Linked DNA regions of Homo sapiens: regions 1, 3, 4, 5 and 6 are each reported to be linked to region 2. Evidence: microRNA targets listed by miRTarBase, many of them from high-throughput screens and not tested one by one. Region 2 holds a microRNA gene; each other region holds the end of a gene's coding sequence.

Region 1 (5,086 bases), not on the chromosome of region 2:
GAGGTGCTGCTGTCCCCTGAGGCTGTAGCCGCCACTACTCCTGTTCCCAGCCTTCTGCCTAACCCGACCAGGGTTCCCAAGGCCGGGGCCAAGGCAGGGCGTCAGGGCGAGATCACCATCTTGTCTGTGGGCAGGTGAGATGGGCACAGATGCAGCAGGGGCAGGTAAAGACGTGACAGCCTGGGGGCCGGGAGGGGGAGGCAGGGCCCCAGCTTGGGCCCTGAGCACCCTGCTCAATGGGAGCCCTGCCCTTATTGGGCCTCTCTGGGCAGTGGAGGCGGCCAGAGAGATCAGGACTTTCCGGTTATGTTGTGTCTCACATGGAGCCCTTGCATCCCTAGGGCAGCATCTTGGCCCCCATGGCACCCGGGCCTCTCAGGCTAAGGCTCTGGTCCATGAACTTGCTGTGTGACCCCGGGCACGTGCTGCCTTCTCTGTGCCCCGGGATCCCCGCTAACGGGGATGATTGCCCCACTCTCCTCACAGGTTCCGCGTGGCTCGAATTCCTGAGCAGCGGACAAGTTCAATGGTGTCTGAGGTGAAGACCATCACGGAGGCTGGGCCCTCGTGGGGTGATCTCCCTGACTCCCCACAGCCTGGCCTCCCCCCTGAGCAGCAGGCCCTGCTAGGAAGTGGCGGAAGCCGTACAAAGTGGCTGAAGCCCCCAGCAGAGAACAAGGCCGAGGTGAGAGTCAAGGAGAAAGGCATCTGTTGGCACCTGGGCCAACCCTGACCGAAGACGGGGCAGGGGTGGAAGTGCAGCGGGCCCTAGGCAGGGGCCACTTTCCTGGAGCCAGAAGCCAGCCCCTGACTCAGCTCTGACCCCTCACCCCTGCCCACCAGGAGAACCGCTATGTGGTCCGGCTAAGTGAGAGCAACCTGGTCATCTGAGGGGCGGTCTAGTCTAAGGACACTGCGGCCCTGCCCTGGGAGGTTCCGAAGGCTTCCTGGAGGAGGTGGAGCTGCAGCTGGGACTGTGAGGACCGAGAAGCAATGGCCCAGCAGACGAGACAGCAAAGACCAAGGCCTGGAGGTGGGAGCGTCTGCCCCAGTGAGGAGGCAGGTGGCCGGCGGGCACTGTGTACAGGAGCAGGCTGAGCCCCGCCCCTGGCCCTGCTGCCATGTTGCTCCCCTGAAGGATGCCCCGACCCCCGTGCCTGCCCTGGCTGGATCCTAGGAGCCCACGGGATTCTCTGTATCATCAGAGGCTGGGCTTGGCAGAGGGGAGGGGCCTGTGCCCGTCACCCCTGGCCCCATTCCTTGGTAATTAGCCACACCCTTGCCTCTGTACAGGGCCCTAGAGCAGATGTGCGTCCCCCTCCTCTTCCAGCAGGTCTATAAAGGGAAGGGGTAGCAGAAAGTCCTGGGCTAGGAGAGTGAGTCCCTGGGTTCTAATCTTGGGCACATCTGTGGCCATCGCTGGGTCCATTTTTCTGACTGTGAAGTAAGGAGAGACGTCTCAGTACCCAGGGCCTCTTCAGCTCTTTGTAGGTTCTGGGCTGGGTTGTGGGGGACTGGGGAGCTGGGCTCTACCATCCCTCCCATTAGTAGCTTTATCCAGCCCCGTTTTTGCTGCTTCCAGGGCCTCTGCCTTCAAGGCCCCCATGGGGCTGTCCATCCATGGCTCTGCCTACGGAAGGGGCTTAATGCATGTGCCTGCCCCTCCCCCAGCTGTTTTTAATGAAACTGAAAAAATAGACTTGATCCCGGCAGGACTGTGATACAGAGCCCTAGCCTGCCCAGCCAGCCCCAAGATCTCAGGAGCTTTAGGGAGAAGACTTGGTGGGGCTGGAGCACACCTTGGGCCTCAGTGGTTTCTGTGTCCCTGTGGTGCCAGTGCTTCTGGGCAGTGCAGGCGGCTGCCAGGCCCAGCCCTGACTTCCACTCTGGCTCAGCAACCTGGTTATTTATGTGGGGCCGTGCAGGCATGGGCCCACTGCCTGTCCATCCTGTTTCTCTTATTTATTGAAACTCACCATTGCCCTATCCTTGTGTCTCCACCCCCTTCCATGTGTTGAATAATAAAAGGTGGGAAAGTGCTGTCACGAGGAGCTCCTTTTCTCTGTGCCCTTCCCAGCTTATCCGCCTGTTCCACTTGTACCTGTCCAGCCCTGCCCTGTGTTGGGCACCGTGACAGGCTGCCCTCCCCTCACAGTTCCTGCACCTCAGCAGCCAGGGAAGCAGGGCCCAGAGGAGACCCATCAACTCATCTGGTTCTCACCAAAGCCCCTAGCTAGAGGCAGGGCTGTCCCACAGAAATAGTGTGAGCCACATATGTGACTTTAAATTTTCTGACAGTCACATTTCAAAAAGTAAAAAGAAGCAGGTGAACTTAATTTTTTTTTAACCCAGTCTATCCAAAATATTTTCATTTCAATATAAAATCAGTATAAAAAGTGTGAATGAGCTGTTTTTGCTTTTGCTTTGAAATCTGGAGTGTATCTTACACATCTTGATTGGAACTCAAATATTTCAAGGGCTCCATAGCCACGTGGCCAGCAGCTACCACACTGGTCAGCGCAGCACCTGAGGAAATGCACTGTGTGGAGCCCGGGAGGTAATTGGGGGTGAGGAAGATGTGCGGGCCAGGGAATGTGTTCCACAGAGAGGGACAGCATGTGCAAAGGCTGAGCACCAACACATAGTGGTCACCTGGGCCTTATGCCCAGGGAGCCTCCAAAGCATTCAGCTCCTGCTTGGCCAGTGTGGAGAGGAAAGGAGCCACAGGAGCGGGTGCTACACCCGGCAAGACAGAGCGTCTCCATCTAAAATTCCTAGGGCAAGCTTCCAACCCGGCCCAAGGGCCGCATGTGGCCCAGGATATGGCTTTGAATGGGGCCTAACACAAATTCATAAACTTTCTTAAAACATTGAGATGTTTTTGCTTTTTTCTTTTCTTTTTAGTTCTTCAGCTATTGTTAGTGTTAATATGCGGCCCAAGAAAATTCTTCCAATGTGGCCCAGAGAAACCAAAAGATTGGACACCCCTGTGCTAGGGTTTGGTAATGGGAAATGGGTCGGGGGCTTAGGGCCAGCTGGGTGGGGCAACAGGAGCAGTCCTGGGGGCACCTGTGACACAGCCATGGAGGATGTCCCATGCCATCCAGATGTGAAGGCCCAGAGCTCTCAGGAGACAGACCTGGAGACAAGAAGACCTACAGGCACTCAGGTGGGTGTTTAGGCCAGGACTGGGCTGGGAGGAAATGTCCTGGGGACGATGCCTGGGCTGCTCCAGGGCACCACAGAGAAGGCACTGCTAGGGAGGCAGGAAAGAAACCAGGGAGGGCAACGTCCGTGGCAGTGTCCTGGCAGCCAGGGGAGGGGTGGGCGCAGGGTGGGCTGCAAGGCCAGGTGCTGCTGGGGGGTGAGGAGGACTGCTCTGTGCCCTGGTGAGTGGCACAGGAACTTGGTGGGATTCGCCTAAAGGGAGAGGGGAGACCAGGGCCAGGGCCAGGTGGATTGAGGGAGACAGCTCCCTGCCGAAGCCTGGCAGGCCATAGCTGGGTGGGGCCTCAGGCTCTGGGGAGAGACAATTTTCAGTTAATTTAGGGTTTTATTGTTTGTTATGTTGTCTAAAGACGGGAGAGAGGGACACATTTAAACTAACGGCCTCAGAGAGAGGCTGAAGAACAAGAGTGACACCTGATGGAACCTGGGGAGGTGTGGAGAGGACCAGCCTGTGGGAGTCCCCGGCCTGTCTGCAGCAGGCACAGGGCAGCTATGGGGCGGCCATGCTGGGGCTGTCGGGAGGCCTGGCTTCACAGGGGGCAGGGGCCTTTCTCCTGAGCAGAAGCCAAGCTGGGGGCCTCCTCCTACCCTGGGCAGATGTGCTTTGGGATTTGACTCTCCTTGGGTACCTAGGGCACAGGTGTCTCTCTCCAGGGCTTTTCAGGTGGGCAGGAAGGGGAGGGACACCTCTGAAGATCCAGGAGATGTTTCACCTGCACCAGAAGAGGGGAAGGAAACAGAGGCTGGACATCAGGAGGGATGTTCTGGAGCAGAAAAGGATGCCAAAGTGTAGGACAGGGTGTCCATTGTAGGGGACTAGCAGGCATCACCAGTGTACCCAAATAAGTATTTCCTGCGGCTGCCAGAGTGTGTTTGGAGTCCCTATTTGCCAGCTGCTCAGCTGCATCTCAGGGTCTGGCCTCTCCACCTTGACTGGCCCTCAGCCTCCTTCCCCAGGGGAAGGCTGGGCTGTGGGGTCTAGATGCCCTCTCCACAGCCTGCCTGTCTCGCCTGGGCAGAGGTACATACACATGCAAGCCAGGGTGCACCAAGGCTGGGTGCAGGCTTCCAGGCCAGGGCTGAGCGCCCCCTCACAGTAAGCACTGTGCTCTCCTCCAGACTCCCCCTCCCCAATTTCTGCTTGCTGAAAGGTGTGGCCCTGGCCTGTTTCTTCACCTGTCCCTTGGGGTATTGAGGCTAGCTTGCAAGAGTGGGATGAAGAGCTGAGGGCTCAAGTAGGAGTGTGTCTGATGCCCTTGGTCTTCAGGGTCCTTACCCTCACCTGGAAGCTTTTCTGGCTTGTTCCATCTAAATCCCTGAAGCTTTGTCAGCGCTTGAGTTCAAGAGGCCCACGCGGAGGTGGGAGCTGGAGGACAGGGTGGGGTTCTGGGCTGACCACTGAGGGGAAGAGTTCTGAGCTTGACCTCTGTGCTCCACCCCTCTTCCCTATGGGCCAGAATGGTAGGGGCTGGGACCCAAGTCTCCACCTCCCCTCCTGCTCCTGGCCCTCAGCTCTGCCACTGTGACCTGGAGCTGAGCCTCCCTCTGGGAGAAAATCCCTTCCTGCACCGGAGAAACTGACTATGGTGACTCAGCCCCAACAATGCCTGTGGCCAGAGGTGCCCCCTCGGACACTGGGGGTGGGTTTCATATTGGATCAAGGACAGGAAGGGAGGCTGGGTGGAGGCACACGGTGAGATTTGGTGAGAGGCATTAGAGAGTAAGGAGGCCTAAAAGTTTTCATTTCAGCTGCAGTGTGAGCCAAGCTACTTGGCCTCTTTTGGCCTGTTTCCTTTCCAGGTGAGGAGGCTGAGTTCTTGGAGGTATAGCTATGGGGATGTGGAGCATGAACTGTAGG
Region 2 (5,086 bases):
ACATCCTTCTATGGCAATGATTAAAAGATCCATTCGTGAGCTGAGGGAACTGGGATACATGGAGGTTAAACGAGTTGCCTAGGTCCCTAACCCCCATGCCCAGATCCTCTGAAGCAGCAGCGAGGCCACCGAGCTTTGGCTGCCAACCTCTCCCAGCCACCTAGGGTGGTCCGCACTCTGCCTCCTGGCTACATGGCATCTGCTAGAAGGAAGCAAACCATGACAAGCAGGAAATCATGGGGACCAGGCTCTGGCCCTCTGTTCCACTGCTTTTGAGAGACAGATGGCTTTGACAACCAGAATAGAGTCGAGCAGAGCAGAGAGCAGATACCCACCCTCCCCCCGCACCACCACGGACCATACTTCTAGGTCCTACCAATGGGATCCAAATCTGAGGCCAGGCTTTCTGCTATTTTTCCCAGGTCTCTGCAGGAAACTGACAGACAGTGGTGACATTTTCTATGTGTGGACCCAGGGAAGAGACTCTGATAGATGCAGGGCAGTGTTGCTGCTGAAACACAAACAGGCCTCTCAGGAGAGTCTGTGTGACTCTCTCACTCAGACTTCCAATGAGGCGCCCTCGGATATCAGATTTCCCAGTGTCAGAAAACTCCAACAAGAGATAGTCGCAAGCCTTCCTTGGGAGTCCATTCCTAGATTCACCATCTGTCTTAGTGCATTTTGTCTTGCTACAGTAAACTACCTGAGACTGAGTAATTTATCAACAATAGAAATTTATTCAAAAAAAAAAAATTTATTCCTCATAGTTCTGGAGGCTGGGAGGTCCAAGATCAAGGCACCAGCATTCTGGTCTGGTGAGGACCTTCTTGCCGCATCCTCACACAGCAGAAGGACAAGCTAGCCCAACACTGCATGATGTCTCTTTAAAAAGGGTCTTCGGCCAGGTGTGGTGGCTCACGCCTGTAATCCCAGCACTTTGGGAGGCCAAGGCAGGTGGATCACGAGGTCAGGAGTTCAAGACCAGCCTGGCCAAGATGGTGAAACCTCATCTCTACTAAAAATACAAAAATTAGCCGGGCGTGGTGGCGGGCGCCTGTAATCCCAGCTACTCGGGAGGCTGAGGCAGAGAATTGCTTGAACCTGGGAGGCGGAGGTTGTGGTTAGCCGAGCCAAGATCGCACCACTGCACTGCAGCCTGGCCGACAGAGCGAGACTCCATCTCAAAAAAAAAGGGCCTTCATCCCATTAACAAGGGAGAAGCCCTCATGGCCCAATCACATTTTTTTTTTTTTTTTAAGATGAGAGTTTCGCTCTTGTTGCCCAGGCTGGAGTGCAATGGCACGATCTCGGCTCACTGCAACCTCCGCCTCCCGGGTTCAAGCGATTATCTTGCCTCAGCCTCCTGAGTAGCTGGGATTACAGGTGCCTGCCACCACGCCCAGCTAATGTTTGTATTTTTAGTAGAGACAGGATGTCGCCATGTTGGCCAGGCTGGTCTTGAACTCCTGACCTTGGGTGATCCACCCGCCTTGGTCTCTCAAAGTGCTGGGATTACAGGTGTGAGCCACCGCGCCTGGCCAGGCCCAATCAATTCCTAAAGGCCCTACCTTTTTTTTTTTTTTTTTTTTTGAGACGGAGTCTCACTCTGTCGCCAGGCTGGAGTGCAGTGACGTGATCTCAGCTCACTGCAACCTCCGCGTCCCGGGTTCAAGTGATCCTCCTGCCTCAGCCTCCCGAGTAGCTGAGACTACAGGTGTGTGGCACCATGCCCAGCTATTTTTTTTTTGAGATGGAGTTTTGCTCTTGGTGCCCAGGCTGGAGTGCAATGGCGTGATCTCAGCTCACCACAACCTCCGTCTCCTGGGTTCAAGCGATCCTCCTGCCTCAGCCTCCTGAGTAGCTGGGATTATAGGCATGTGCCACCATGCCCGGCTAATTTTGCATTTTTAGTAGAGACGGGGTTTCTCCATGTTGGTTAGGCTGGTCCCGAACTCCCGACCTCAGGTGATCCACCCGCCTCGGCCTCCCAAGTAGCTGGGATTACAGGTATGAGCCACTGCGCCTGGTAATTTTTTGTATTTTTAGTAGAGACGGGGTTTCACCATGTTGGCCAGGATGGTCTCGATCTCTTGACCTTGTGATTCGCCCACCTTGGCCTCCCAAAGTGCTGGGATTACACGTGTGAGCCACTGCACCCAGCCCCGACCTCTTAATACTATCATACTGGCCACACCTGAATTTTGGAGGGGACACAATCAAACCATAGCACCACCTTTACTGACTTGTGTCTAACTTAAATTCTTCTTGTACATTGTAAAGTACTTAATAATCCAATTGGCGTGAGTTACTTTATTCTTATTTCACCACATCCATTATACTTGGGAGGCTAGGTGACTGCTTAGCCCAGTGAAATACACACTGTCAGAACTCTTTATTCCTCATCTAATGATAATATTCTGATTGGGCTTGGTTTCCTCCCAGGGTGGACAGTGTTTCCCAGTTATGTTAGTCCCCATTTCAGGCCCCTGCTGGTGACTGAACAAGACCATTGGCTGATTTGCTCTCAAGTCAACCACTGGTGATTCCTGTAAAAGTACATGGCAACAATGGAAATACCATTGCTGTCTCAGAGGAAGGGATGGACTTGTGCCTGTGGGTCTTCCTATGACCCTACTGTTCAGCCATGTGTTCTCACTGGGCCCAAATGTCAATTGCCTTTGTGGGAACCAAACCCCAGACCTCACAAATGGACAATTAATGGAGCTCAGTCAATTAAGTAACTGGGCCTTTTTGCTGGTCCTGGCCATGCTTTCAGCCATTCAAAGAACATCATTAAATTTAAAATAACATAGCAATTCTTAGTATTAAAGTCTACAACCTTGAGAGATATCAGAGCATGGGTTGAAAATAGCATGCAACAAGACCTCGCTCTCCCTTCTCTTCCCCCTCAATCTACAATAAGGTTTTCTGGAGCCACCCATAATTCAAGGTGGTGGCAGGGACCTCATTACTCTCATTTCCTGCCACAAAAATCCCCCATGGTGAGAGACAGGACATTGTACAGTCTTCTCCACTCAGGCAACAGATTTCTTCCGCTTCTTCCAATCCAGCTCCTATGACAATTGGCTGGGGTGGCTGAGGCTGTGGGGCTGGAGTCAAATCCAAAATGAAAGACCAGCACCAATTCCTCCTACCACCCAAGCCCAGGTCCTGAGGATGCAGCTTCATACACCACGGCTTGTGTGAAGACTCTGGGGACTTTTGACATAGTTGTTCGGTGGCAGGCAGGCTAAGCAATCCTCTGTGTATATTTGATAGCACCCTCTTTCCCATCACAGCGCATGTAACACAAAACACTCACATGCAAGCTCCTCTCACAGGCATGCCAATTCAGGCACACTAGCTGTGAGGCCACTCCTCTCTTTCCCACTCAAAAAAAACCCATAGTGGATTAGCCGGGCATGGTGGTGCATGCCTGTGGTCCCAGCTACTCGGGAGGCTGAGGCAGGAGGATTAGTTGAACCCAGGAGGTGGAGGCTACAGTGAGCTGAAATTGATTGCATCACTGTACTCCAGCCTGGGCGACAGAGTGAGAGCCTGTCTCAAAAAAAAAACAAAGCACAGTAGGATGCAAGGGAGTAAGTGGTGAGTGATTTATGATAGGGATAATCCTGAATCCACTGGAATTCCCTGCTCCTCTCCTCTCCTCCCCTCCCCTCCCTTCCTCCATTCCTTCCTTCCTTCCTTCCACTGGAATTCCCTCCCTCCCTCCTCCCTTCCTTCCTTCCTTTTTATTTCTTTCTCTCTTTCTCTCTTTATTTACTTTCTTTTTCTTTCCTTTCCTTTCTCTCTCTCTTTTTTTTTTTTTGTGAGACAGGGTGTTGCTCTGTCACCCAGCCTGCAGTAGTGCAGTGGCTCGATCAGGGTTCACCGCAGCCTCAACTTCCCAGGCTCAAGTAATCTTCCCACTTTAGGCCACCCACCGACCAAGTAGCTGAGACTACAGGTGTGCGCCACAGCACCAGTTAATTTTTTCTTTTTTGAGATGGAGTTTTGCTCTGGTTGCCCAGGCTGGAGTGCAAAGGCGAGATCTCAGCTCACTGCAACCTCTGCCTCCTGGGTTCAAGCGATTCTCCTGCCTCAGCCTCCTGAGTAGCTGGGATTACAGGCATGCGCCACCATGCCTGGCTAATTTTGTCTTTTTACTAGAGACGGGGTTTCTCCATGTTGGTCAGGCTGGTCTCGAACTCTTGATCTGAGGTGATCCACCTGCCTTGGCCCCCGAAAGTGTTGGAATTACAGGCGTTAGCCACCGCGCCCGGCCACTAGTTAATTTTTTTTAAATTTCAGTAGAGATGAGGTCTCACTATGTTGTTCAGCCTCGAATTTTGTTTCTCAAAGTGAAACACAATTATGAGTAATAAAGGACCCAGAATCCCTTCACAGCCATAACAGCATGCTTGACAACTGCTGCTGCCTAGCTTGGGGGTTTCCAGCCTTGAGGTTGAGCCTACCCTAGGCTTAGCAGGAGGCCAGAGCTGAGCTGAGAACAGAGCCCAGGATGATTATCACTCCTAATCCATGAGGTACCAAGATGTGGTTCTGTGTGACACCTTGAGATGGCTGAGTACTCTCAGTCCCTATTTATTCTTAGCAAAGCAAACCACAAGCCTGCAAGCTGCTTGATGACTTAGGGCATCAGTGTTCAGAAGGTCTCTATGGGGACTGATGTCCTGAGGTGACTAGACGCTTCCAGACATCAGTGCCCGTGGCACCCAGATGACACTTCTCGCGAGGCTCCCGTTTTTCTGCAGACTAGGCTGTCTCTTCATAACAGAGCCTAGTTTCCATCAAAATGCCCTGACTTCTCGAGAGGACAAGTGCTAATCTTTTTTATTTTTTCCATGCCCACGGCCGGTCAGAGAAGACCTATCTCTACCTACCATGCTCCAGATAGCCTTACCCTTGAGCCAGATTTGTCTAAGATGGTGATGGTGATAACAAACACATCTCGGGTGTACTGATGGACAGGAAGTCAGGAGAGACAATGACTTGCTGCCCTGCTATGCTAATTTGTTGGCCAATTCATAGGAGGTGGCAGCTGAAGTTGTAATGATAACTTAGA
Region 3 (5,086 bases), not on the chromosome of region 2:
AAAGAAAAAAGGCCAGGCACGGTGGCTCATGCCTGTAATCCCAGCACTTTAGGAGGCCGAGGTGGGTGGATCACGAGGTCTGGAGTTTGAGACCAGCCTGGCCAACATGGTGAAACCCTGTTTCTACCAAAAATACAAAAAAATTAGCTGGGCGTGGTGGCACTCGCCTGCAATCCCAGCTACTTGGGAGGCTGAGGCAGGAGAATCACTTGAACCCCAGAGGCAGAGGTTGCAGTGAGCCAAGATCGCACCATTGAACTCCAGCGGCAGAGGTTGCAGTGAGCCAAGATCGCACCACTGAACTCCAGCGGCAGAGGTTGCAGTGAGCCAAGATCGCACCACTGCACTCCAGCCTGGGCAACATAGGGAGACTCCGTCTCAAATAAATAAATAAATAAAATAAAAAGTAAAGGAGTGGGGGGCCGGGCGCAGCAACTCGTTCTTGTAATCCCAGCGCTTTGGGAGGCAGAGGCAGGCAGATCACTTGAGGTCAGGAGTTCGAGACTAGCCTGGCCAACACAGTGAAACCCTGTCTCTACTAAAAGTACAAAATTAGCTGAGCATAGTGGCACGTGCCTGTAGTCCCAGCTACTCTGGAGGCTGAGGCAGGAGAATCGCTTGAACCCAGGAGGTAGAGGTTGCAGTGAGCTGACATTGCGCCACTGCACTTCAGCTCTGGGCGACAGAGCAAGACTCCTCCTCAAAAAAAGAAAAAAAAAGAAAAAGTAAAGGAGTGGGGTTCATGGAGCATCAGGTAGGTGGTTGTTGGAGGTGGCCACATCCCTGTGAGGTTGGTGACACAGGATGAGAAAACTACCCTAGTGGCAAAATGTTTTGCGGCTCGCCAAGTTTTGCATCGCAGCCAGAGTTAACTCCGGTTAACTGGTTTAGCTGGCATTAACCTAAATGTCCCAGAGAGGACAGCAGGCACCATCCTTATCCTTTCGGAGCCTGATTTAGCTGTAGCTCTGAGGAGGACTGGGCTCAGAACCAAGGTAGGCCAGCAGGAAAGGTATTCCTGAGAAGGCGACAGAGCTGGGGCTGGGAAGCAGCAGTAGGAGTTGGGCGGGAGGGAGGAATGGAATTCACAGATGCCAGGAGGAGGGGTGGAGGCAAGCCTGGCGCCCATGGTTTTCCCAGGGGGTCCAGAGACCCCCTTATTGAGGCTCCTGGCTCTTTCCCAGAGGCACAGCTGGGACACATCTGGACTGGAAAGGGGCTTGCCTCTCCTTCCCAGCTCCAGGCCTTGGAGTAGACAGGCCCCTTCTCCCTCCCTGCCTCCTCGAATACCGGGAATTCCGACGCCGCTGGGAGCCTGGGCCAGGCTGAGAACTTTCCTTCAGCCGGGAATGTGCAGCTGGGGCGGAGGAGGGGAGCGTCGGCTGCGGTCCTGACCTTGGGGAGGCTCCAGTGGAGTGGATCACTCCAGGCTGAGGAGTTCACCTCCGTCACCACGGGGCCCCCGGGACACAGCCTCGGCCCTGGTGTACAGTAGCCAGTCAATAAACAGTAAGTGAGCAGAAGCCAGCAGCTAATATTTATTGAGCCAGGCCCTGTGCTGGCAACTGTGCTCAGCTAATTATCAGAATCCCCTGAGGTGTGCACAGTACCAGGCCACAAGCCTCATGCGGGCAAGGCAGTGTTCTCTCATGTATCCCCACTGGCAAGAACAGCACCCGGCACAGGATAGGCACATTTATTTATGTATTTCATTTTATTTTTTTGAGACAGTTTTGCTCGTCTCCCAGGCTGGAGTCTAGTGGCGCAATCTCGGTTCACTGCAACCTCCACCTCCCAGGTTCAAGTGATTCTCCTGCCTCAGCCTCCTGAGTAGCTAGGATTACCGGCACCCACCACCACGCCCAGCTAATTTTTTGTATTTTTAGTAAAGACGGGATTTCACCATGTTGGCCAGGCTGGTGTGGTCTCGAACTCCTCACTTCAAGTGATCCACCTGCCTTGGCCTCACGAAGTGTTGGGATTACAGGCGTGAGCCACCGCACCTGGCCAGGACAGGCAAATTTAATGGTAGACTTAAGCCAAGCTGTGTGGATTCGAGTCTCAGTGCTGCACCTTCCTAGCTGTGCGACTAGGCAAATCCCTTAGCCTCTCTGTGCCTGCCTCAGTTTCCTCACCTCTAGACTGAGGATTAAAAAACATGCTCACTTGCATATTAGGAATGTAATGAGGACAGTGAACGAGCTTATATAAAGCGGCTGTAATGCTCATAGTATGTGCTTAGTACCCAGGAAATCTCAGCTTATTTGCTGCTAACTGATTGCTAAAAATTCAGATTCCTGGGCAGGGTATGGTAGCTCACGCCTGTAAACCCAACACTTTGGGAGGCCGAGGTGGGCGGATCACCTGAGGTCAGGAGTCCAAGACCACTATGGCCTGGCCAATATGGCGAAATCCCGTCTCTACTACAAAATACAAAAATTAGCTGGGCGTGGTCGTGGGCGCCTGCAATCCCAGCTAGAGGCAGGAGAATCACTTGAACCTGGGAGGCAGAGGTTGCAGTGAGCCGAGATCATGCTATTGAACTCCAGCCTGGGCAACAAGAGCGAAACTCCGTCTAAAAAAAAAAAAAAATTCGGATTCCCAGCCAGGAATGATGGCTCACGCCTGTAATGCCAGCACTTTGGGAGGCCGAGGCGGGAGGATCACGAGGTCAGGAGATCGAGACCATCCTGGCTAACATGGTAAAACCCCGTCTCTACTAAAAATACCAAAAAAATTAGCCGGGCGTGGTGGCGGGCACCTGTGGTCCCAGCTACTCGGGAGGCTGAGGCAGGAGAATGGCGTGAACCCGGGAAGCGGAGCTTGCAGTGAGCCAAGATCGTGCCACTGTACTCCAGCCTGGGCAACAGAGCGAGACTCTGTCTCAAAAACAAAACAACAACAACAACAACGAAAAATTAGCTGGGCATGGTGGTGCACGCCTATAATCCCAGCTATGTCGGGAAGCTGAGGCATGAGAATTGCTTGAACCCAGGAGGTGGAGGTTGCAATGAGCCAAGATTTTGCCACTGCACTCAAGCCTGGGTGACAGAGTGAGACTTTATCTAAAAAAAAAAAAAAAAATCAGATTCCCAAGCTCCTCCTTCCCTGGGGATCCTGATTCAATAGGTTGGGACTAGATACTGGGGGATCTGTGATTTGAATGATGCTCCTAAGCAAGTCAGAGGTTCAAATATGTTTGGGAAGTGGAAGGATATGCTCCCTAAATCTTTCAATGATCCCAGGAGGGAAGTACTGTTGTCTTCATTTTGTAGATGAGAAAACCGGCTCAGAGGGAGGACCCACACCAAATAAGTAAAGATGGGACTTGAATTCACAGCCAGGACACCAGGGTGCTTCAGAGAATCCTAGGGGAGCTTACATAAATAATGTGCTAAAGCACAAGAGGCTAAGTATTTGATGAAAGTAGCTAATATCATCACCAAAGAAACCGTTTAAATTGTGCCTCTCACTGGGCATACCACTGCTGGAACAAGGGGGCAGACAGAACCTAACATAAAAGCCTTTTGTCTCCACGACCTGAATTATTTTGCTGGGGGAGGGAGCATGTGGATGAATTGTAGAGGCTGCAAACTGCGGGGAGGAGTGAAGGGATCTGAGGTATGTGAGTGGGTACAAGAACTGGGATATTCAAGAGGAACTGACGGGAAGGATGCCAAGGGAAATCAGACAGATGTGGGACAGACTTATCCCAGAGCCCCAAAATTGATCTCCCCCGTATCAGCATGGAATTGTCTCTGAAGTATCATAGTACTAAGACCCCGGAGAGTCCAGTGAGGGAGGGATGGGGTATGTCGATGGATTGGGAGATGGCTGGGTGAATATGTATGGATGGCAAAATGAGTGGATGAATGGACAGATGGAAATATGGAGGGAGAGACGGACTGATGAACGGAGTGCTGGATGGAGAAGATGGGTAAGTGGGAAGATGGATAAATGGAGGGATGGAATGCCAGATGGGGTTAGAATGATAAAGGGATGGGTGGGTGAATAAGGCAGACAGTTGGATAAGCAAGGCAGATACGTGAGATGATGGATTGGAAGATGGGTAGATGGAGCGGGAAAGCTAGATGGAGCAATAGCCAGATGGATAGGTGGAGAGATGGCAGGGTGGGTGAGATGAACGGATGGTGGGAGACGTGAACTGTATAAATTGCCAAGGGAATGGATTTCTAGTGTCTACTTGAAGCAAAGCTTCTTAACTTGGCTTTCCTGGATGGGCATCAAGCAGTTCACACACACGCCAAGTTATAGTGGGTCCATTTTCCAATAATTCTCAAAGGAGTCTGAGATTCCCCAAGCTTTCAGAACCGCTGATTTGTTCTGTGTCAGACCTTCCCATTCATTGTCTTGTCATCTCCCACAGCCTCCAGAATGGGAAAATACACATCATTGCATGAAAGAATCAGTATTAACAAAACATTAATGACATTCCTCCCTTCCCCATCCCTGTGGATCAAGGCAAGAAGGGCCATTCGCCGATGCAGATACCAGGAGTTGGAAGGCCGCAGCAGTTTTGAGGCCTGCGTTCAGTGTCTGGACTTCCAGGTCAAGTTCTGAGGGTCTATGGCATCTGGCTGAAATCCTTGCTTCAGGGAAGCCTCATGTCCTGGCTCACATGTGGAAGGGGGCATCAGGAGCCCCCTGGGCCCTGTGAAGGCCCATAGATTCCTGTGTGGAGGCCAAGAGAGCAGGGTGGTTCAACCGGACCTGGGCCTTGGCTGGCCGCAGCCGCCCACCCCCGCCCACGTGGATGTTAACCGTCGTGGCATAGCTGAGCCGCCTGGCTGGGGGAGGTGGTGGCTGGGGCTGGGGGGGCGGCGAAGATGCCCGTGACGTGGGAGCAGAGGACCAGGAGCCCCGGGAGGCTGCGGGGGCCCCTCCCCCAGGCCCCTGCCGCCGAGCCAGGCTCTGGCTGATATATGAGGCTGCCAGGTATCTGGAGAGGGCAGCTGCATTGGGGCCCAGGAGCTGACGGCTGGAAGGTGGGGGACTATGAGGTGGCGTCAAGTCTGAAGACTCCAACCTGGCAACGTGAGAGGCTAAGGAGCCTCCTGGTTTGGAC
Region 4 (5,000 bases), not on the chromosome of region 2:
TTAAGCCACACTCCTACATGAGTACCACTCTCCTAAAGCTTCTTGCAGATCATTTTTAATAAGCAATGCTATTTATAGTAACATGTAATGGGTTATTTTATAGTAACTTAAGATGTTCTTAGTTTTAATTTCTGATATGATAAACATCCATATATAGCCCACATAAAAGATTCCTGGGGTTCTCAATAATTTTTAAGAGTGTAAAAGGGACCTGAGACAAAGTTTGAGAACTGGTTTAAGACTTAAAATTTAATAAACACCTGCCTTTTGCCGTGTAAAAAACCCCAAATCTTTTCCTAAAATCTCTCCCATTATCCCTTAAGTCCTTGTCTTGTTTATTACAATATCTGCAGCATCAGTCAGACAAACGAATACAAAAGACCAGTAAGTGGTGACTGTAATACACTTCTATAGCTAAATCTATAAGCCAAAATATAAGGCAGAGTAGGTAGGATGAGCATCCAACTTGGAAGTTAGTAAGAAATGGTGGCAAAACTTTAAGGTAACTGGCAGAAAAAACCATGTAAGACATTTAAAGGTATATGCAAAAATTGTTCTCTTTAACTAACTATGTCCTCTCATTTTTTTCCCAGAGATTCCTTCAGTCGAATGAGCCTTCGCAAAATGGATCTCTAAACTGAATGCACTTGTTTTATTCATCTGCAAAGAGCCATGTATTCAACATCGAGTGTGAAAAGATCTATTGGAAAACAACATGGAATGGAATTCTGGAAATTATTATTCATTGAAGAATGCAGTGGCCAAGAAAATATCAAATGTAGATTGTTAACGCTTGAGAATCATGGCTATGGTTTCTAATGTTCTGGTAACAAGCTGTTATCTTTTAAGACATTTTAATGACTCAAAGGTACACTATACATTTACCATTATTTATACCATAGCTAAGGTTAAAAATTTATTCACTTTAAGTTCGTATTTTTTAATTTATATTACCATTTATAGATTCATTTTGGAACCATTTTAAATGTAGTAATGCTTATTTTAAAGGTACTATTAAATATGTGAATGTTTACACTAATTTTACCGAGTGGGACTTCAAAATTTTTATTATTGACAATGGCAGAGAACAATTAAAGGGTTGACTCAAGAACTAGTTCCAAACCTAGCAGAATAAAAATCATAGATAGCCCCAAATTAATGAGTTTGGTAACTGTTTCAAAGTTATTTTCCATTTACATACCCAAAACAGGAATTTAGAATTGCAGAACTTTACTTAGTAAAACCTTTGTGTAAAATAATTTAAATACGGGGATAACTAATACCAGTGACAACACCTTAACTTGATTAAATCTTATTACACCAATGATAGTAGTAAGAACTTCATGATTCTTAGCAACTAAAATGAATGATTTCTCTGTTTCAAATTAAAACCAGCCATCAGTTTTTGACGATGTAAACCAGTAAATTAGAATCTACTTAAAGCTATCTTGTAGCACCATGAAGGTAACACAGCTGGAGTTTGAGAAATTACCTATTTTCTGACACTTGTAAAGTTTAGAAGCATATAAAAAGTAAAATTAGGTGCTTTAATTCATCTAAAATTATATGCAAGTCATACAGAAAAAAAATTTGAGAAGTAACATTTTAATTCTTGGCAAGTTTTTCCAAAACGATGCATAGTAATGATTTCCAGAACAGTTTAGAACAATGGTTTTTGGGTAGTAGTGCAGTTTACAGAATGGCATCATTTATAATCCTTTTCTTCTACTGACCAGTTACATGAATCACTTAAGAACTAACCAGATCTGGGTGCGGTGGCTCACATCTGTAATCCCAACACTTTGGGAGGCCGAGGCGGGTGGATCACGAAGTCAGGAGTTCAAGACCAGCCTGGCCAAGATGGTGAAAACCCGTCTCTACTAAAAATACAGAAATTAATTAGCCAGGCACAGTGGCAGGAGCCTGTAATCCCAGCTACTTGGGAGACTGAAGCAGGAGAATCGCTTGAACCCGGGCAGCAGAGGTTGGAGTGAGCAGAGATGGAGCCACTGCAACTCTAGCCTGGGCGACAGAGACTCCGTCTCAAAAAAAAAAAAAAAAAAAAAACTATCATCTGTACACACACGCACACACACATACATACATACACACACATATATATAAAAGAACTGATCAGATTGGCTGGGTGCAGTGGCTCAGGCCTATAATCCCAGCACTCTGGGAGGCAGGGGCAGGCGGATCATGAGGCCAGGAGTTCAAGAACAGCCTGGTCAATATGGTGAAACCCCATCTCTACCAAAAACACAAAAATCAGCCAGGTGTAGTAGCCCGTGCCTGTAATCCGAACTACTTGGGTGGCTGAGGCATGAGAATCACTGGAACCTGGAAAGTGGAGGTTGCAGCGAGCCAAAATGGCGCCACTGCACTTCAGCCTGGGCGACAGAGCAAGACTCTTAAGTCAAAAACAAAAACCAGCACTTTGGGAGGCCGAGGCAGACAGATCACGAGGTCAGGAGATTGAGACCATCCTGGCTAACAGTCAAACCCCGTCTCTACTAAAAATACAAAAAATTAGCCAGGCGAGGGGGCAGGAGCCTGTAGTCCCAGCTACTCGGGAGGCTGAGGCAGGAGAATGGCGTGAACCCGGGAGGCGGAGCTTGCAGTGAGCTGAGATCACGCCACTGCACTCCAGCCTGGGTGACAGAGCTAGACTCCGTTTCAAAAAAAAAAAACAAAAACTGGTCAGATTTAACGTATTGCCTTCATTCTATAGTCAATGTAGTAAATATTCAAAATATACTAAAAAATATCTACTTCTGAGAGCCTAAGTGATGGTTGATATCCCACACTCCATGTACTTTAATGGGCAGTATCATCTCAAATTCCTCTTATCTATATCAATTCAAAGACTGAATCACAAAAACATTTTTCAGATGAGTCTACATTGTTAGACCAAATCTGAGTCAGAAGGGCATAACCTCAAAACTCTATTTGAGGAGCCAAATGAACAATAAGGAAAGGTAAGGAGTCAAGAATGGAAATCCCTCCCCTCCAAAAAAAGTGACATTTTCCCTTCTTCTTTGGGGGTCAGTGGTGGGTATAAACATAAGGGAGAGAATAAGGAACCACTGAAGGGTCACTTCTCATTAGGTTACATTTATATAACAGTTTGGACAAAAATCTCAGAAATCTCAGTAATATCAAGGACTTTATGATTTATATAATTATGCAAAACCAATTATTTTCTGACATCCTTCAGAACAGAGGCTTCCTCTTAAACATTCGTATGATACAAACCTCTTACAAACTTCATTTTTCTTAAAATGGAACTTTCTCACATCAGGAATTTGTGTTAGTTCTTAGAACTGGCTGTCTCTCGAGTATTAAGAGGCCCAGTGTCTATCTTAGACCCATTCCATTCAAAACTTACAGGTAGCGCTCAGGACTGTTTAAGGATTTCCATTAGTGATTCTGAAAGGTGGGGAGAACCATGACTTTATTACCATCTCATCATCCTATGAAAGAATATAAGACATTATGTAACTGTGTTTTTTTTTTTTTGAGACGGAGTCTCACTCTGTTGCCCAGGCTGGAGTGCAGTGGCGCAATCTCGGCTCACTGCAAGCTCCGCCTCCTGGGTTCATGCCATTCTCCTGCCTCCGCCTCCTGAGTAGCTGGGACTACAGATGCCTGCCACCACGCCCGGCTAATTTTTTGTATTTTTAGTAGAGACGGGATTTCATGTGTTAGCCAGGATGATCTCGATCTCCTGACCTCGTGATCCACCAGCCTCAGCCTCCCAATGTGCTGGGATTACAGGCGTGAGCCACCGCGCCCAGCCTACTGCGATTTTTTTTTAATTGAGAAGGTACTCCTTGTTGAAATGGGGTATTAAAGTGTTACCCCAATAGCATTTACATATTTAGAATCATTTCTAGGAAAAACTTAGTACCAAGAATGTCCATTAACAAGTCATGAAATCATTCATCACTTACCACTTCAGTATACTAGTTTAAAATGAAATTTTAACCAAGTTTTTATGTGTGCCCAAAGCATCATCTTAACTTTTCCAGTTTTGGATTCCATTAAATCATGTCTACTTTAAAGGACAATTAGATGCAACAGATTTCATTATAAACCTCTTTTAAGTATGACAGCTTGGCTGGACTAAGCACAATTTCTCCTCTTTGAAAAACTCCTGCACTGTCAGAAAGTATTCAGTAATAAAGGTAATTATGCATGCTTATTCTCTCATATATATACATATATATATACACACACTTATTCGCTTTAAGAAAACTCAGCTGTATTTATAAAAATATACAAGTAAAAAATTCAAATATTCATATACATAGTTAAGCAGTTTAAATTTTATTGACCTCCCAGTTTTTAAAAAAAGTTAAATTTAAGGTCACACCTCTAAGTTTGATGTACTATATACAGATCGTGCAGAATATGAGTTAAACAGATACAAATTAGTCCATGCCCAAAAAGATATACTAGGGTACAGAATCATCTTCATAAATACATATAAAATTCTTGTGTAGAAGCGAACTGTCCAGGTTTTCTGAGACACTTCTAAGTGAATCAAGGCACAAAATGTACATACACCATTGTGAATACACACATTCTAGACTTTGTGCCTCTGACATAGCCCAAGGATTTAGCTTCATGACTCTTATAAAACTAAATGTACTGAATGAGATTCTGCTTCTTGGGTGAAAAACCACAGGAACTATAAACATCATGTAGATAATTACTCCAAAATATGGAGAATACAAATACGAGCACTTTATTTTAAAAAGCAAACACAAAAGACTGGTGTAAATCCAAGTGTTTAAATGCCTCCGTTTTGGATAATTTAATTAAGAACCGATACAAGTTTGTTCCCAGAAGCTAATGCATCACTAGTCTCTACTGAGGAAAATGAGTTCTAAAAATTAACATGGTTTTCAGTAATTCAAATTTCACTATTTATATAAAAACCTAGAGAGACCAATAATATCCAGTAGCTTCAAAAGATAAGCTAAAGATTCTTT
Region 5 (5,079 bases), not on the chromosome of region 2:
TTCCTTTTTTTTTTTTTCCCCACTGAGAAGGGGTCTCGCTATGTTGCCCAGGTTGGTCTCGAACTCCTGGCCTCAAGCGATCCTCCCGCCTCAGCCTCTCAAAGTGCTGGGATTACAGGTGTGAGCCACCATGCCTGGCCTGAGTCCAGCTCTTTAATGCCCGTTCATCTCAGTCCCCTGCCCGCAATCCTGCCTTCTGGCCTCCTCCGTCCCTGATCCCGCCTCTGCCTGCCCAGGGGCTGCCCCTGGCCGAGTCACTGAAGCGACTGATGTCCCTGTCTCCAGGACGGCCTCCTCTCCTACTTTGGGACGCCCACGTGGCAGACCGTGACCATCTTTGTGGCGGGAGTGCTCACCGCCTCACTCACCATCTGGAAGAAGATGGGCTGAGGCCCCCAGCTGCCTTGGACTGTGTTTTTCCTCCATAAATTATGGCATTTTTCTGGGAGGGGTGGGGATTGGGGGACGTGGGCATTTTTCTTACTTTTGTAATTATTGGGGGGTGTGGGGAAGAGTGGTCTTGAGGGGGTAATAAACCTCCTTCGGGACACACTTCGGCATCTGAGTCACTGGGCCTCTGCCCCGCTCCCCGGCACGTCAGGAGAGCAGGCCCTGTCCGCTGCCCCACGCCGGGCCCGCCGTCTGCTGGCCTAGAGATACCTGCTTGGGCCACTCAGGGACGTGGGGCTCTCTGCACTCACTTGACATCTTTTTCTGGGGTGCCCTGTGGGGTCTGTGGGTTAGGGATGAGTTGGTCCTGGGCCTGACCTGCAGGAGCTCACGGGAAAGGAAAAGAAGGGAGCTCACGGGAAAGGAAAAGGGAGCTCACGGGAAACGAGGGTGATAGGTGGTACATCTGTCGCAGCCCAGGATGATCTGTGCGGGACAGAGGCAGCGGCCTGTGAGGCCCAAGCAGGCGTGTGGGTAAGGGAAGAACAGCACGGCCGGCTGCAGAGCAAGCCTCCTCGGCCCGGGGACCACAGCCTGGCGTGTCACACGTGGGACCTCAGGAGGCCATACCTTTACCGAGCTGGAGAATGGGAGTGGGGGGAGGAGGGATGGGAGGACCAGAGGAGCAGGAAGGGCTCTGGAGCCTGGTGGTGAGGTCGCTGGAGGGTGGCAGGCTGAGGACACCAGGGCGAGGGCCCACGGGAGAGGCCTCCTGAGCTGGGCTGAGGACAGAGAGGAAGGGACCTGGCTGGCGACTGAGAGGCTGGAGGGCAGGGCAGAGGAGGAGGAACCTGGTCTGGCCCCACAGCTGGGTGGGGCCCCCCTGGAGAGGAACTGCCGGAAGAAGGTGCTGAGCTCAGAGGCCCAGTGACCTTAGACACAGGCGGAGCGAAGACAAGGGGGCTAGAGGATGTGGGTTCTCAGTCACAGGGTCTCTGGCACCCCCCTCTGGGTCTTTACCCCCTCCCATCTCTGGGTCTCTGTCCCCATGCTCTGGGTCTTTGCTTTCCGAGCCTCTGTTCCCACCCCACCTTTGGCCCTCTTTCTCTGGGCCTCTTTCCACCCCTGGCACCCAGACCTCTGGCCCCCTCTCTCTGGGTCTCTGTCCCCCCCTCTGGATCTCTGGCCCCCCATCTCTCTCTGGGTCTGTCCCCCGACCCTGAGTTTCTGTCTCCCTCTCTCTGGGTCTCTGTCCTCTCTCTGGCTGTCACTCTCTCTTGGGTCTCTGTACCTCCCCTCTCTCTGGGTCTCTTTCCCTCTCCCCGGTCTCTGTCCCCCGCCCCCGGGTCCCTGTCCCCGCCCCCCCAGGTCTCAGTCCTCCCTAGTCTCTGTCCCCTTCTCTCTGAGTCCCTGTCCCCCCTCTCTCTGGGTCTCTGTACCCCCTTCTCTGGATCTCTGTCCCCACCTCTCTCTGGATCTCTGTCCCCCACTCTGGATTTCTGTCCCCTCCCGCCGGGTCCCTCTGGGTCTCTATCCCCCCCACCCCTGGGTCTCTGTACCTCCCTGCCTCTGTCCCCCCCCACCTCTGTCCCCCCCTCTCTCTGGGTCTCTTTTCCCCTCCCTCTGGGTCTCTGCCCTCCTCTCTCTAGGTCTGTCCCCCTCCCCTCTCTCTCAGGGTCTCTGTACCCCTCTGTCTCCGGGTCTGTTTTCCCCTCTCTCTGGGTCTCTGTCCCCCTCTCTCTCAGGGTCTCTGTCTGAGTCTCTTTTTCTCTGGGCCTCTGTCTCCCCACCCCACGTTCTCTATGGTCTTCAGATCCTGTCTCTCTCAGCCCCTCCTCTCCCTCCACCTATGGGCCCCAAGGCCCCTCTCGGCCGACTAAAGGTCTCTGGGCTGAGGTATGACATTTGGTAAATGAGTAACTCGGGCCCCACAGTCAACGGGGTGCTTTGGACGGCTGCCCCTCCTCCATGGACTCTTCCCAGAGACCCCAAGTCAGGGGAGAGAGAGGGGCAGAGGATCAATGAGTGTACACTGAGCCACCACCCAGAGTGAGGGGACAATATGGCCACAGGCAGGATCCCAGAAAAAAAAAAATTATGGGAACCAAAAAGACACGGAGACAAAGCACACAGCCGGCTTCCAACAAGGGGGGACCTTGGGGTAGGGGGCCCGATTTGGGTCTGAGCCAGGTCTAGTTCTGAGGGTCCCACCAAAAAAGTCGGGGAGTGCCAAGGGGATGAGGTCAGCGAGTGGCCCCACCCCCATCCGTCCCCGCGGGGGCCCCTTCCCGCGCTGAGCTCAGCATGACTCAGCAGTCGCTGCCTGCAACAAGGACCCCAGATACCGGCCTGGCGGGGCATCTGCAGATCCCCTCGGTCAGGGGCTGCCCCGCCTGGGCTGTTCGGAGCAGCTCCTCTGTAGGGCAGGGCCTGACCTCACCCCACACCCCAGTGGCTTCAGCTCCCTGCCCAGCGCACGGGCTGCCTCCATCAGGGCACTTAAGTAGAGTCAAGGTTTGCGCCGACTCCGTCTCCCAGAAATCAACGTGGACCAGGCCCACTTAAAAAATATGCATTAGTCGAAGACAGACGTCTCGTCCATAGGTCCCCAGACTGTTTGTCCACAACGCAGGGCTTCTCTTTGTGGGCCTGAAGGAGCACACGTCAGGCAAGACACGAGGGCAACTTCAGAGACACTGTTCAGGGCCACGGAGAATTCTCGAAGTCTGTGAGTTGTCTCCAAAACAGCCTCCAGGAAATGCAATCCCAGAGACACCGCAAAGCTCAAAACAGACTTTTCATTCCTCCCCATTTCCACTCCCAGAAAAAGCCTGGGCCCCTGAAAGAGCTCCAAGGTATCCCCAAAGTCCCAGCCCATCTTTGGAGGGTTCCAGAGGGCTGTCCAGGGTTCCAGAAGTCACCCTACCTCATACAATGCTCCTCCTGGGCTTCCCGCACTGGGTGAAACCCACGGCTCCAGAATAACTGCCCTTTCCAACTTGCAGAGCACCTCAAGAACCTAAAGATTTCCCCGGGGAGGGCTCCAAAATATAGAGAGTTTGCATCGTGAACCCCCACCCCTGTAAATCCCAGGACTCCAGTCCCCGCAACACTCCATCTTCCAGAGATCTCCAGGGGTCCAGAAATAACACCTCACAGCCTTCCAAGCTTCCCAAGGATCCGGAGACTCCTTATCTCGCAGCGCAAACCTCAGGCAACTACAGGTCCTCCCTGCACCTTTGAGGTGCCCCTCCCCCCACTCAAGGTTCCAGAAAAATCCATGCCCTCGGAAACCCCAGAATCTTACTTTCCCGAGGCACCCCAGGACCCCAGGGTCATCAGTTCACAGGGCTGTTAGTGCTCCCATAAAACTCTAGCCTCCCAGAGGGACCCCAGCCCCCACCCTCCCGCCCACGAACCCCTGCATTTCCAGAATCAGCCCCAGGGCCCCAACCCCCCCAAGCCCCCATTTCACAACACGCTGGCGCTACAGGCGCGTGACTTCCCCTTGCTTTGGGGCGGGGGGCTGAGACTCCTATGTGCTCCGGATTGGTCAGGCACGGCCTTCGGCCCCGCCTCCTGCCACCGCAGATTGGCCGCTAGCCCTCCCCGAGCGCCCTGCCTCCGAGGGCCGGCGCACCATAAAAGAAGCCGCCCTAGCCACGTCCCCTCGCAGTTCGGCGGTCCCGCGGGTCTGTCTCTTGCTTCAACAGTGTTTGGACGGAACAGATCCGGGGACTCTCTTCCAGCCTCCGACCGCCCTCCGATTTCCTCTCCGCTTGCAACCTCCGGGACCATCTTCTCGGCCATCTCCTGCTTCTGGGACCTGCCAGCACCGTTTTTGTGGTTAGCTCCTTCTTGCCAACCAACCATGAGCTCCCAGATTCGTCAGAATTATTCCACCGACGTGGAGGCAGCCGTCAACAGCCTGGTCAATTTGTACCTGCAGGCCTCCTACACCTACCTCTCTCTGGTGAGTCCCCAGGACGCCCCTGGCCCTAATTTCCTCCAGCTGCGCACCTCCGGCCCTCACTGCACGCGCCAGCCTTCTTTGTGCGGTCGGGTAAACAGAGGGCGGAGTCCCCTTGGCCTCGCCTCCCGCTAACCATTGTTGCCTCCATCTCTTCCCGTAGGGCTTCTATTTCGACCGCGATGATGTGGCTCTGGAAGGCGTGAGCCACTTCTTCCGCGAATTGGCCGAGGAGAAGCGCGAGGGCTACGAGCGTCTCCTGAAGATGCAAAACCAGCGTGGCGGCCGCGCTCTCTTCCAGGACATCAAGGTAACTAGTGTGTGGGTAATGGACTACATCTCCCAGCAGGCCGTGCGCGCGAGGAGCCTTGATTTGAGGGCGTAGGTGTCGCGTGGGCTTCTGGGAGATTGAGTTCGGTCTTGTGAGCCCTCTTAACCGCTGGAAATAGAGGCGCACCTCGTGCAGTGCCCACAACACGCGGCAGTCCACACCGCTGCGTGGTCTTAGGGACGTATAGCTGTAAGAGCTAGGACAGGGTGCGGAGAGTGATAAATACAAGCTGTCACATGTCTTTGTGGCCTGGGCCTCTGACCCCCAACGACTCTTGGGAAATGTAGGTTTAGTTCTATGTGCCGAGTGTGTGTATTCTGAGCCATTTCTCCCTTCTATATAGAAGCCAGCTGAAGATGAGTGGGGTAAAACCCCAGACGCCATGAAA
Region 6 (5,086 bases), not on the chromosome of region 2:
GCTTGAGGCCAGGAGTTCAAGACCAGCCTGGGCAACATAGCAAGATCCTATCTGTACAAAAATAAATAAACAAAAATATTGGCCAGGCCTAGTGGCACACACCTGGTAAGCACTGGCTACTCAGGAGGCTGAGGCAGGAGGATCACTTAAGCCAGGAGGTCAAGGCTGTAGTGAGCTAAGATCATGCCACAGCACTCCAGCCTGGGCAACAGAGTGAGACCCTGTCTCAAAAAAAAAAAAAATCACCCTGACTGCAGGGAGAAAAACAGAGGGGAGGGTGCCAAGCAGATGGAGGAAGCCAGCTTAGAGCTGCGGCAGGAGGCCAGCTGCCTGGATGATGGCCCTGGATACTGCAGGTGTGGTAAAGTGCACACATCCAGAGAGGTTTAGGATACTTAGAGCTGATGTTCATTCAATTTGTAGGAAATAGTCTTAGCTATAGCTGGGTAGGACCCCATTTCGGAATGTTAAGCTAAATATGAAAACTTATGACTGACTAAATTTTCCATTTTTTTCTCCTATGTAGGCAACTGATTGAAGGAACAGAAGTGCTTAAACAACTAGAATTAGTTCCAACACAGAATGAAAGACCAATACATATGTGTAGAATTACTGACAGTGGAGATCCTTATGCTTGATTTTCATATCAATATTTTCTGTGATAATTTATTACTTTGTATCTGATCAGCTGTTTGTGGATTTAATTAAAAAGTACTTGATAAATTGTAATTTGAAAGCCGTGGCAGACACTGTAGGTTGCCTCATCTACACCCAATCCCTCCCCATCTTCCTTTCCTGTCTCTGTCATAGAGACTGTGAAAGGGTGGTACTCAATTTCCTAGACTCCTTTGCAGCCACGGGTGGCCATGAGAGATGGTTCTGGCCAGTGGGACAGGAATAGAACGCCAGTGGTCCTGCCCCTTCCCCTTCATCCAGTCTGGAATGTGGAGAGGCTGGAGCTACAGCTGTCATCTTGTGGCCATAAAGAAAAGGCTGAGGCCAGGTGTGGTAGCTCACGCCTGTAATCCCAGCACTTGGGAGGCCGAGGCAGGTGGATCACAAGATCAAGAGATTGAGACCATCCTGGCCAACATGGTGAAACCCTGTCTCTACTAAAACTACAGAAATTAGCTGGGCATGGTGGCATGCACTTGTAGTCCCAGCTACTTGGGAAGCTGAGGCAGAAGAATCTCTTGAACCCGGGAGGCGGAGGTTGCAGTGAGCCGAGATGCCGCCACTGCACTCCAGCCTGGCGACAGAGAGAGACTGTCTCAAAAAAAAAGAAAGGCCAAGTACTGCAGAGATGTCAGCCCCAGTCTCTTGAGCTGCGGGACCAATACCAGCAACCACCTACTCTGGACTTCTTATTATAGGAGACTAACAGAGCCCTGTGTTGTGTTGTTTATGTTACTGTTGGTTGAGAATTTTGTTACTTGTGGACAAAAAATTCTTAATTTAGCAACACACCTGATAGCCTAAGACATTTGTAATAGAATTATGTTCTTGTTTGTAACTACATGTACTCCTAGGAGAAACTTGGTAAGTAACCAAATAGGAATGATGCAGAAGAAAAAGCAATTCATTGTAATATTTCATTGTTTATACCAGCATTCAGAAAGAGTATCTACACTTTGGATGTTTTCATATATGACATGAACATCATCCTTATCTCTCTGAGCCATACCAACCCTATGAAAACCAAGGGCTTGTTTTACAGTGTCCGTGGTGGCTGACTCATGTGATGTTATTGGAGATTCAGCTTTATCACTACTCTGTAATCTAAAGTTCTCAAGCTCATATCACCTGGGGAGCTTTTAAAATGTAACCTAACAGACCTTGTCCTTGACCTACTGAGGCAGAGTTCCCAGGCGTGGGGCAGAGATTCTGTGTTCATTTGGTTCTTTCCCCAGGGTTCCCAGGCGTGGGGCACAGATTCTGTGTTCATTTAGCTCTTTCCCCAGGGTTCCCATTTAGACAGCTGGGCACTAGTCATCTGGGAATCACTGCAAGACATAAGGAACTGGTTCCAGTCCCCATGGTGTAATGTAGTCAGCAGAGTGCTTGACTCTGCTATTGGTGACCTTGCTCAGCTCCTGTTACCACCACTACCCTGTGCCCCTGCTCTGCCCAGACTAAGAGTGCTTTTCTTTTTTTTTTTTTTTTTTTTTTTTTTTTTGAGACGGAATCTCACTCTGTCGCCCAGGCTGGAGTGCAGTGGCACAATCTCGGCTCACTGCAAGCTCTGCCTCCCTGATTCATGCCATTCTCCTGCCTCAGCCTCCCGAGTAGCTGGGACTACAGGCGCCTGCCACCACGCCTGGCTAATTTTTTGTATTTTTAGTAGAGATGGGATTTCACCATGTTAGCCAGGATGGTCCCGATCTTGTGACCTCGTGATCCGCCCGCCTCGGCCTCCCAAAGTGCTGAGATTACAAAGGCGTGAGCCACCGCACCCGGCTGAGAGTGCTTTTCTTACCCTAAGCAGAATGAGGTTTGTCTTCCAAGAACAATCTCTATTTACATCAGTCTTAAAGAGGCAGGCTTCTAATGGATATGAGGCTTGCCAAAAGTAGGCGTAGGCTTTTTTAACTTTTTATTTTGAAATATAGATTCACAGGAAGTTGCAAAAATAGTACAGAGCAGTCCTGTGTACCTTTCACCCATTTTCCCCAGTGGCTACGCTTACAAAACGGTAGTACAATATCAAACCAGGCAGCTGACATTGGTACAATGTGTGTGATGCCATTTTATCATGAGTATATTCATGTAACCAACACTATAGAGAAAATATAGAACCTTTCCAGCACCTCAAAGACCCCCTTCCAGTACCCCTTTACAGTCAACCCACTCCCCTGCCCTCTGCCATCCCTAACTCCTGACAACTGGCATTTGCTTTTCCTTTTAATGACAGCTTTATTGCTATATGACATATGCTTTATGCTAAGACCTGAGGTGGATGGGAGGAAGCAGACCGCCTATGTTACATTCTCAACTGACCCAGAGCAACATAGTGTTAAGAATGTGTGTTCTAGGGCCAGAATCCTGGCTCTGCCATTCCCTAGCTGCACAAACTCAGGCAAGAACTTTTCTGTGCCTCAATTCCTTCATCTGAGAAACAGTGGTACCTACCACATAAGATTGCTGTGAGGGTTCCATGAATCAATAATTTCTATAAAGAACCTATAAGAGACCTGGTCTGCTGTAAGCACTCGATAAATTTAATAATAAATTACTAATGTGTAACCTTCAGGGTGTAGCCTCAGAGCTTGGACTTTTTGAAAGCTCTCCAATGACTTTGATAGCCAGATTTGGGAATCCCTGAGGAGAGTCTCCCTCTTCCTGTACTCACAGACTTCTGGGCAGTCTGAGAACTCGGGTGATTTGTCTAGAGCTTCCAGACCCTCTCGCTGGGCCTTTGCCCAGGTTCCTCAGGTCACACTGGGGACATCTCAGACAAAAGGGAGCTGGGCTTGCCACCAGGATTCAAAACAATTGGTGAATGAAAACTGATTCTTTGCAAGGAGCCCGGTTAAAACACATGACAAGCGTTACTCATGTAATAACAAACAGCAGGGCAGTTCTTACTGGTGATGAACCTATATATTAATGGCATTAGGCATTTTATCTGATGTTGTGAAAGAACTGGGATATTTGTGTGGGTGTAAGAAACTGATTCCAGCTCCCTTTGTCAGCAGCAATAGAAAGGTAGAACTCTGCCAGTCTTCTCAAGGATGGCGAGTTCATGGTCCCTTTGTTCACTCTAACTTTCCACTTCTGGGCTGTGGAAACCTCAACCACAGATCCATGCAGTGGTTCTTATCACCAGCACTTAAAAGTATACACACTGATACTTCTGTGCTAGAATGATTTGTATGTTTAACCTCATAGTTGAAGAAACTGATTGTTAGAAGGACTCAAAAGTTTACTCCAATGAACTCCACATGTAAGACTTTGATTTAACCAAACTGAAATACACTAATTAAACAGAAGGGATTCTAGATTTTTCCACATCTACAAATAGGACAATAAAGGCCTTCTGATGATTTACACAAAATGCTAAGTTATATGTCTAAACTTGCCCTAATTGCTGATATGGCAAAGTCAAGTACATACGCTTTATCTTATACTAGGCCGTGTGAATAAGGGAGGGCATATCTAAACATTTTTCTTATATGGGGAGATTTGAGGTAAATATTTAAAATTCTATCCAAGGAATTTGTTTGCCCCTACTGCAAACAGTGCCAGTTATTTGTTAAGGAATGGATAATCTGGCAACCTCAGGATTCCAGACCCTGAGTTTTTATACATATTTTAAATGAAGCATTATTTGTTTGAGAACCACCTGTCCAGCAATGTGATGGTCAAATCACTTAACCTTTCACTGTCCCCATTTGTAAAAATAACAGAAGTTGAGTTGCTAGCTTTCTTCTGGCTCTAAAACTTCAGTGATTATTCTGAGGAAACGCATAAAATCAACAATTTTAAGTGAAATGGGGGTACATCTGTCTCAGTGTTCTGAGGATTGACACAGCAGGTGAATCTATTCACAGCAGGTGAATTATGAGAAGCACAGCACAGTGCTTCTAATAATGCTTGGCACACAGCAGATATTCCTTAAGAATTAGTTTCCCTTCAGAAATGTCTCCCCACGGAAACCAGTCAAGCTACCACTGACAGAATATCATCATCCTAATTTCAAGAAATATCAAGCTCTTTTTATACTGAGTATTAGCAGTTCTCACATCAGATTAACTTTCAATCAACTGAACTAGTTCAAAGGTATATCTTTAAAATTAAAATTGGTCTCTACCACACCTAGCAATATTCTCCCTTATGGAGACTCATTTTTTAAACTATATTGATCTTACCATCCCCTACACTTCCCAAAGTGGAATCACCACCACTTAAATCTGGCAAGTCTTAAGACTTTTGTATATCATACGAAATATTGGTGACTAACTCAGTAGTAATGTATACAACATGAATTACAAGTTGCATATTTGATAGAGGGCTTTGTAAGGTGATAAATCACAGGTTCTTTTACTTTAGCATGCATCAGAGTGCCTGGGCCTGTCAAACAGATTGC

Evidence for each region. Region 2 holds the annotated microRNA hsa-miR-766-3p (ACUCCAGCCCCACAGCCUCAGC, at 3,096-3,117, opposite strand). A microRNA usually pairs through its seed, bases 2 to 8, with sites in the 3' UTR of a target mRNA and lowers its output. Matches are read on the target gene's strand: a 7mer-m8 pairs with bases 2 to 8, a 7mer-A1 pairs with bases 2 to 7 and ends in A, and an 8mer does both.
Region 1: the mRNA of RELT is a reported target of hsa-miR-766-3p. Seed matches in the 3' UTR shown: 7mer-m8 at 1,788-1,794.
Region 3: the mRNA of PLEKHG2 is a reported target of hsa-miR-766-3p. Seed matches in the 3' UTR shown: 7mer-m8 at 2,853-2,859 and 7mer-m8 at 2,544-2,550.
Region 4: miRTarBase lists DOCK7 as a target of hsa-miR-766-3p. The part of its 3' UTR that is shown has no 7-base or 8-base seed match.
Region 5: miRTarBase lists BAX as a target of hsa-miR-766-3p. The part of its 3' UTR that is shown has no 7-base or 8-base seed match.
Region 6: miRTarBase lists PPIL6 as a target of hsa-miR-766-3p. Seed matches in the 3' UTR shown: 7mer-m8 at 953-959 and 7mer-m8 at 2,204-2,210.

Annotation. Positions count from the first base shown.
Region 1 is chr11:73,394,601-73,399,686 of GRCh38, forward strand. RELT (RELT TNF receptor) reads left to right here. Exons shown (of 11, transcript NM_152222.2): 9 at 1-134; 10 at 487-685; 11 at 844-2,874. The coding sequence ends at 891. Among named protein-coding and RNA genes, the nearest start is that of RELT, 21 kb to the left of the region's middle.
Region 2 is chrX:119,643,668-119,648,753 of GRCh38, forward strand. It overlaps MIR766 (microRNA 766), which reads right to left and starts at 3,181; the gene lies at 3,071-3,181. All of the region lies in intron 5 of SEPTIN6 (septin 6), which reads right to left. RefSeq lists an enhancer at 4,235-4,414.
Region 3 is chr19:39,424,844-39,429,929 of GRCh38, reverse strand. PLEKHG2 (pleckstrin homology and RhoGEF domain containing G2) reads right to left here. Exons shown (of 19, transcript NM_022835.3): 19 at 1,515-5,086. The coding sequence ends at 4,636. Among named protein-coding and RNA genes, the nearest start is that of RPS16, 8.6 kb to the left of the region's middle. RefSeq lists a silencer at 1,167-1,461 and an enhancer at 1,232-1,877.
Region 4 is chr1:62,451,050-62,456,049 of GRCh38, reverse strand. It overlaps DOCK7 (dedicator of cytokinesis 7), which reads left to right. Exons shown (of 50, transcript NM_001367561.1): 50 at 594-1,324. The coding sequence ends at 636. USP1 (ubiquitin specific peptidase 1) reads right to left here. Exons shown (of 9, transcript NM_003368.5): 9 at 4,246-5,000. Among named protein-coding and RNA genes, the nearest start is that of USP1, 17 kb to the right of the region's middle.
Region 5 is chr19:48,961,247-48,966,325 of GRCh38, forward strand. It overlaps BAX (BCL2 associated X, apoptosis regulator), which reads left to right. Exons shown (of 6, transcript NM_138761.4): 6 at 286-552. The coding sequence ends at 390. It overlaps FTL (ferritin light chain), which reads left to right and starts at 4,063. Exons shown (of 4, transcript NM_000146.4): 1 at 4,063-4,363; 2 at 4,524-4,670; 3 at 5,035-5,079. The coding sequence starts at 4,262. RefSeq lists silencers at 953-1,122, 3,893-4,052, cis regulatory regions at 1,002-1,522, 2,462-2,962 and enhancers at 2,644-2,753, 4,303-4,352.
Region 6 is chr6:109,388,378-109,393,463 of GRCh38, reverse strand. PPIL6 (peptidylprolyl isomerase like 6) reads left to right here. Exons shown (of 8, transcript NM_173672.5): 8 at 527-3,249. The coding sequence ends at 638. Among named protein-coding and RNA genes, the nearest start is that of CD164, 8.5 kb to the right of the region's middle.